Homo sapiens: one gene and its partner. The protein of the gene in region 2 interacts with the protein of the main gene of each other region in a pairwise test. Each region holds a gene or a part of one and is shown on either strand. Other genes may lie near its edges. The genes, in order: ZNF200 and PPARGC1B.

Evidence for each region.
Region 1: the proteins of PPARGC1B (region 2) and ZNF200 interact in a two-hybrid assay, tested with the Homo sapiens proteins (one large-scale study listed by BioGRID and IntAct).

The regions. Positions count from the first base shown.
Region 1 is NC_000016.10:3,228,421-3,232,238, forward strand, and holds part of ZNF200 (zinc finger protein 200), read right to left. Parts: intron 1-3,818. UniProt on the Homo sapiens protein: Localizes protein arginine N-methyltransferase PRMT3 to the nucleus.
Region 2 is NC_000005.10:149,824,256-149,828,073, reverse strand, and holds part of PPARGC1B (peroxisome proliferator-activated receptor gamma coactivator 1-beta), read right to left. Parts: intron 1,402-3,818; coding exon 1,189-1,401; intron 1-1,188. UniProt on the Homo sapiens protein: Plays a role of stimulator of transcription factors and nuclear receptors activities. Activates transcriptional activity of estrogen receptor alpha, nuclear respiratory factor 1 (NRF1) and glucocorticoid receptor in the presence of glucocorticoids.

The DNA of each region.
Region 1 (3,818 bases), on a different chromosome or scaffold from region 2:
TAACTATACAAGTAAACAAATGATTTTTCTCCTTTATATATAAGAAATATTAATAGATTTGTATTATTTCTGTTTTTTTAATTATTTTTTTTGAGATGGAGTCTTGCTCTGTCCCCTAGGCTGGAGTACAATGATGTGATCTCAGCTCACTGCAACCTCTGCCTCCCGGGTTCAAGTGATTCTCCTACCTCAGCCTCCAGAGTAACTGGGATTACAAGCACGCACCACCACACCCAGCTAACTTTTGTATATTTTTTTTTTAGTAGAGATGGGGTTTTGCTATGTTGGACAGGCTGGTCTCAAACTCCTGACCTCAGGTATCACCCGCCTTTGCCTCCCAAAGTGCTGGGATTACAGCCGTGAACCACTGTGCCCAGCATGGGGACTGGATTTCAACACGAGATTTGGAGGGGACAAATATCCAAACTATATCAGCAACCTTGCGTCAAAGGGGTAAAAACAAATTAAAATTGCATATTTTTTCTAGAAAACATTATACAGACCTTCATATTCATAGGTTCTGCATCTGAGGATTCAACCAACCAAGGATTGAAAATATTTGAGAGAAAAAAAAAGGATGGTTTTGTCTGTACATATTCAGTTTTTTTGTCATTCCCTAAACAATTTAGTATAACAACTATTTATGTAGCATTTACTTTGTATTAGGTATTATAATTGATCTAGAAATAAAATATATGGTAGGATATGTGTGGAGTATATGTAAATGCTACACCATTTTATATAATGAATTTGAGCATCCATGGATTTTGGTATCTGAGTGGGGGTCCTGGAACCAATCCCCCATGAATACCAAGGACAAGTGTATATCAGAATTTATGGTATAACCTAAAGTGATGCTCATAAGAGAGCTCATGGCTGTAAAAACATGTATTAATTTAGAAAAATGAGAATAATAAAGCCTCTGATTCAAAGTTAGAAAAACAATAGGATAAATTTAAAAGAATGAAGGTATTAATAAATACCAATTAGAAAGTAATGAGTTAAAAATAGAAAAAAACTAGTAAGATTTAAGCAAAAATAAACCAATTTCCATAGAGAAAATTGAAATTATCAAAAAAAGACTAGCCACCTACCCAAGAAAAGCACCAGCCTCAGACAGTTCCACAGAAAATTCTTCTAAACTTTTAAAAATTAAATAATTCAAATGCTAGGAAAATTTCCAGAGTATAGAAAAAGAAGGTTGGGAGGCCAAGGCGGGCAGATCACAAGGTCAGGAGATTGAGACCATCCTGGCTAACATGGTGAAACCCTGTCTCTACTAAAAATACAAAAAATCAGCCGGACAAGGTGGCAGGCACCTGTAGTCCCAGCTACTCGGGAGGCTGAGGCAGGAGAATGGCATGAACCGCAGGGGGCGGAGACTGCAGGAAGCCAAGATCGCACCACTGCACTCCAGCCTAGGTGACAGCGAGACTCCGTCTCAAAAAAAAAAAAGAAGGAAACTTCCAAATTCAAACAAGAGCGAAACTCTGTCTCAAAAAAATAAATAAATAAATAAAGACAGAGAAATCTGAGCCCCAGTGATGGAGGTGGGGCCTAGTCGGAGGTGTCTGCATCATGTGGGTAGATCGCTCATGAATGGCTTGATGCCACCTCAAAATAATAAGTGATTTCTCACTCTTAGTTCACTAACAATGTGGCTGTTTAAAAGAGCCTGGCACCTTCCTACTCTCTTTCTTCCTCTCTTGCCATGTGAAGTCTGCTCTCCTTCAACCATGAGTAGTTTCTTGAAGCCCTCACCAGAAGCAGACGCTGACGCCATGCTTCTTGTACAGCCTACAGAAAACTGTGAGCCAAATAAACCTCTTTTCTTTATAAATTACCCAGCCTCAGGTATTCTTTTATAGCAGCACAAAATGTACTAAGACAGTTGCTTAAGAGTTTTAAATTTTCCAGGTGGAAGGAACTTTAATTTACTGATCTTTATTATTAATTTCTAGTTGTACTGCATTGTGACAGATCCTACTTTATTTCTACTCCTTGGAATCTGAGTCTTTGTTTGTTGCCTAGTATTTAGTCAATTTTCTTCAATCTTGAAAAGGTGTATTCTCCTATCACAGCACACAGTAGCTATAATAAGAATTATCTTACTGAAAATCTGTTTAAGTGTTCTACGTTTTTCCTTATTTTTACGTGGTTCACTTGGCCAACACACACATTCTCTGTTTCCCTAGGTTATCAAGGACTGTTCTTTGATTCCTGCCACCACAATGTTCAATCCGTTATAGTTTTTCCTTTGCAAAAATTGGTTAAATGTTACTGTTTCAATTATCATCACCTATAAATTGATGGCTCCCCAATCCCTATATCCTCACATCTGAACTCCAATCCCCAATTTCCAAATATCTGGAGGATAATCTCATTTTATTTCCCATCATGGATTCAATCTCATCCAAAATCAATTCCACCTTCTTCACTACTCTGCCCCGGGTCCAAATCTTACCTCAGTCTTGCGATAGCTCATTATACCTATAAAAATTTCACACTGCTTATCGTTTGATGAATGACTTGTCTTACAAACCAAATTGGAAGATTACAAAAGGCAAGAATATAACATCTTCGTAACCTGATGAATACAATTCCAGAACCCAATCCTGCCTGAGGAAAAAACTAGTACATTTATGAAATGCTGGTAAATGACTAAGCTTAAGCCACCAGCTTCAGGGTACGGGTGGAGGAAGTGGGGAACAGAGGGTGAGGATTGGGTCTTAGGGGCCCTGAAGTGCATAGTCGAAGTGATCTTGGAGGCAATATATCCACTAACCAGTCACCCAAAATAAATGCCAGCTCTGCCCAAGACTCAGGAAAAACTCAGTGTTAATAAATCTGATCTTTTTATCCTTTTCTCTAAAATAAAGAAGATATCACATAGAGCAACCTGCGGGAAATTAACTACACTCATTACATACCAATACTTCTGACCATACGGTATAATTACAGCTAAGAGTTTGACAGTCATAATGGATTTCTGTCACCCCAGGCAACTTCTAAAACCTATTCTCTGTACAACTTCACCCTCAGAAACAAAAAGCCCTGAAGGCAAAGTAAAAAGTGTCCGGCACTCAGTAAAGACATTTGTGCGGGCCTCTGCCTCTAGGGTTGCAACATTTCTAGAGAAAAGGTAAAGCATCTCTAAGCAAATTATAGAGAGGCTGCTGCTTGATCAGTTCATACACAGCACTGGGGGACACTTGTCAACTATTACTGGGAAATGAGGACAAATAAAGAATGCCCCATTCACCAACCATACACGGAATTCATTGACAAAATTATGAGAAATGCATCTAGGAGACAGTACAGCCCTGGGCCATTACTGCAAATTCTGATGTCAGATTCCCTGAGTCCGAATCCCTGTTCCCCTACTTACAACTGTGTGAACTTTAGCAAATTTTGTAACCCCTCTCTGCCTCAGTTCTGTCACCTGTAAGGTGGCAGTAATTTCTATACCACTCAGTATTACTCTGAGAAGTACATGAGAGAATAAACACATGAAAAGCATTTGGACTAGTGCCTAGCATGTAACAGCATATAAGTGCTCATTAAGTGTTAAACATTACTTTCACCAATAGTGGAATATATTTTCACTTAGGCTAGTAGTCTTCACATCTATTGAACATCAAAAAGGGGAGGGGGATTACAAGAGTTAGTCATGTGTTCAATGAAAACATTCAAATATACCTGTTGAGAACAGAGTTCAGAAAATGGGTTCAGAACAGTTTCTATATCCACAGTTTCTATGTCTGCAGGTTTTCCCTACCTCTCCCCTCACTGCCCCCAAGATACAGGGAAAAATGGCC
Region 2 (3,818 bases):
CTCCCCACTCTGGGCCACAGTTTTTCCAGAGCTGGGCTTGAGGGTCACCAAGGGCCTTTCCAGCTCAAACTCTCCATAACCTAAGAACCCTCCCGGCTCCAACAGGCTCTGATTTTCTAGCTGAGTCCTGCCAGCCTCCAGGAGCCACAGCACCAAGGGAGGGGCCCAAGACAGGCTGAGCAAAGCTAGACTTCACACTCCAGGACAGCTCAGCTATGGGTGCTCTCAGCCCGGATTGAGAGCGACTGCTTCCAGTAACTTCTGAGTTCCAGACTCCTTTGAAAATCTGATAAAATCTGATGTTCTCCCTAGAAAGCTGCTATTCCATGTGCACATTTCCACATTCCGCACACGCTCACACCGCATTTAACTTCTGCTGGTGGAAGTGTAAACCAGTCCAACATCTTTGGAGGGCAATCTGCAAGTATCTGCTTAAACTGGAAAATCACAGATCCACAGACCCAGGAATTTCATTTTTAAGAATTTGTCCATTTACATGTCACAAAGGCCTGTATAAGAACAGTTACTGTGCCACTGCTTGTAATGAGGAAGGAGTTGAAACAACACAAATACCCAACAGGGGAACCAGTGAAACCCTACCAAGGAACATTACACAGCCAACACAAAGAATGAAACAGAGCTCTACGTGCTCATGTGGAAGAGCTTCCAAGACACACAGTTAACCGTGAAAGCAACGTGCAGAGCCCTAATGTAGACTCCCTTTTGTAGTAAAATCTTTTAAAAGGTAGAAGAGGAAAGTCACATAACAGATCAGTAACCATGGTTACCTCTGGGACAGGAAAAAGCAACAGAGAGAGGGCTAAGGAGGTTTTGCTTTTAACTGTCCACTTTTACTACCTGGATTTTTACCATGTGTGTGCAATCTTCAGGAAAATGTTTTGCATGTAATTTCAAGGATTTAACACGTAACTTGGTCAATCCCTAAAGTACCAAAGAGCATAGAGAATGCAGGTGAAGCCTCTGTCGTTAGTACCTCTGTCTAGGTGGGAAAGGTTAAGTCCAGGGGGGCCTCCCACCTTCGGCCCACGCTCTCTGCTGTGATCAATATTGCCAGTGATGCACGGAGTCCCCTGCGGGGCTGGAGCGGATTGCTCTGCACCCCATGCCCTGAACCAGAAACCTAATCCCAGGCTGCAACCATCACTTCTGCTGTAAGTAGGTTCTTACCAGTGAGAGCTCGTCCACCTCAGGGGCTGGGGCCGAGGGCTTCTCCGGGGCAGGGCTGGGGGGTGCAGATGAGGGGGCAGGCGAAGCTGAGGTGCATGATAGAGCGTCTCCACCATCCAGGGCTGGGAAGGCAGCCAGACCCACGTCATCTTCAGGGATGTCATCCAGGGTCTTGGTGAGCTCTGCCAGGAGGGCCTCATTCTCACTGTCAATCTGGAGTGAGGAGGGCGGGAGGGTCAGAAAGGCAGATGGGGAGATGGTTAGTCACCACCTTAGACTCAGTCTCCACGGTGGACACCAGCTCTGCCCAGCCAGCTGGCCCACCAACACCCTCCTGCCATACCCTCCCCTCTGCCCACCCAGCAGAGCTGCTCAGTATTCCTGGCATAGCAGATGCCCAATAAATGTGTTATTGACTCCAAGAATCCCAGAATTTTATGAACAGGCAGTAGATGACAATGGAAAGGGCCCTGCCTGGGAGTCCCACTCTGGGCTCTGCTGCTTATCACATACCTGGGCACAGGGCTGTCCACCTGAGTGACGCCTACCTCCCCCACCAAGGACAGAGGCTGGCCTACCACACTGGTAGCAGCAACCCGTTACAGCCCCTCAGACCCTGGGGTCCAGGCAGAGTGAAGGCCAGAAGCTCCAGGGTTCAACCATGACAATAATAACCACAGCAGTGACGAGGCAGCTATAATTTCTCTGCGGGTTCCCAGAGCTTACTCTCCTCATTCACTCCTGAGGAGGTAGCAACTATGGTGATTAGACACTCGGGCTCTGGAGCTGGGGCTGTACCCCAGGTCCCATACTTAGCACCTCTGGGCTCTCAGGCAAGTTAGCTTTCTCATCTATCAAGTGGGATAACACACAGCACACATTTCCTAAGGTTACTGCTGAGGACTAGATGAGTAAACTTAGGTAAGATGCTTAGAAAATGGTGCCTGGCACAAAATAAAAGCACTTGCTACTGTGATGACTGTAACTACTACCACTACCACTGCTAGTGCTGCTACTGTTACACGATTTCTGCCATGACGATGATGATGATGACAGTGGTGGCGGTGGTAGTATAACTGCCCCCTGCACTCTTTGCTCCCTTCCTTCCCCTTCCCGGTGGCTACTCTGTGCCTGGCTTCATGCTGGACGCTGGTGATAAACAGCACGTGGAGAATGACATGCCCCGCTCCCATGGAGCTTACCCTCCTGTGGAGGATGGGACGAAACTAACAAACAAACAAGATCATTTCAGAGCGTGAGAAAGGCTAGGAAGAAAATAAAAGGAAGCCATGATGGAGAAAAAGAATGTGGTGAGGACTTACAGGCTCTTGAGGGTGGTCCCAGATGCCTTCTCTGAGCAGCTGATACTTAAAGGTAGGCTTGAAAGACACCAGCCAGGTAAAGCGTTAAGGAGGGGAGACCCAGGAAGAGGGAAACCCCAATCAAAGGCCAGAGGCACAGCGCTTGGCTGAAGAGAGGAGTAGAAAGGCTCTGTCAGGCTCAGGGAGGCCTCACAGCAACCTCGCCCAGGGGCGCACGATTCTGATCTCCATTTTGCAGTTGAGGACACAGAGGCTCCTGGAGGCTCAGCAACTTGTCAGGGGTCACATAGCAAATAACGTCCAAAGCCAGGACTTGGACAGCAAGAGTGCCCCATGCACAGATGAACCATAAGGAGGGTCGGCGTGTGTTCCCCCAGCCCACAGGCCCCCACGCCCAGAGGCCTGGTGTGGAGAGCACGTGGCTTCTAGGTGAGGCACCGAGCGCCTCATTTAGTAAGGCCTGGTCCCCGGGCTGTTCTGGCAGAAGGCACATTCTGTCACATGATGCCTCCTCCGGCACTCTTTCCCATCCCAGGTCAGGCTGTTTATCCTTTCTGCAGGAAGTTCATCTGAAATACACGTCTCGTGACGGCCTTTTGGCTGCACTAAATCTGTTCCAGGCCTTACAGCCGGAGCAGCAGCTGAGTAGTTCGAAGGGGGAACACGGGGAGAGAACAAACGCGTTTGTAATTTTTAGAACAGAGCTAAGAATAAAAGAAAGGTCAAAAGAAGATTTTGGTTGGGCCTGACCCAGGCCCTGGGGATGGAGGCCCGAGGGTAGATCAGGGTCCGAGGACTCTGGCTTTAGAATGCAAGCGGGCTCATTGGCTGCCCCCACCCCCTACCCACAAGTCTCCTTCAACCCTCAGGCCAGACTCCCAACCCTGTCCAGCCCAGAACCATCTGTCCAGCTTGATGGAGAGTTAAGATCCTGGAACTTGGGCCTCAGCGACCACTCTTGGGGTTCTGCCATCAAAAGGGTGATCTTAGGCAAGTCGTTTCCCTCCTCTATGCCTTGCTCCTTTCCCTGTGAAATGGGAAGACATGATCCCTGGCCAGCCTTCCTCCCTGGGCTCCCAGAAGGCCAAGTCTGGAAGCAGTAATGAGAGTGCTTTGTAGAGTGCTTAGGTCCCTAAGCTCAATGCCTGGGACATGGGAGGCACCACGGCAGATTTACTTAATGAAAGAGTGAATGAACCAAACAATGAACAATGGCGGGAGGCTAAGTTCAGTGTCTCAAAGAGCAGATTCTAGAGGGAAGTCATTCAGAGATGACATCATCAGCACTGCACGAACTGAGAATTCTCA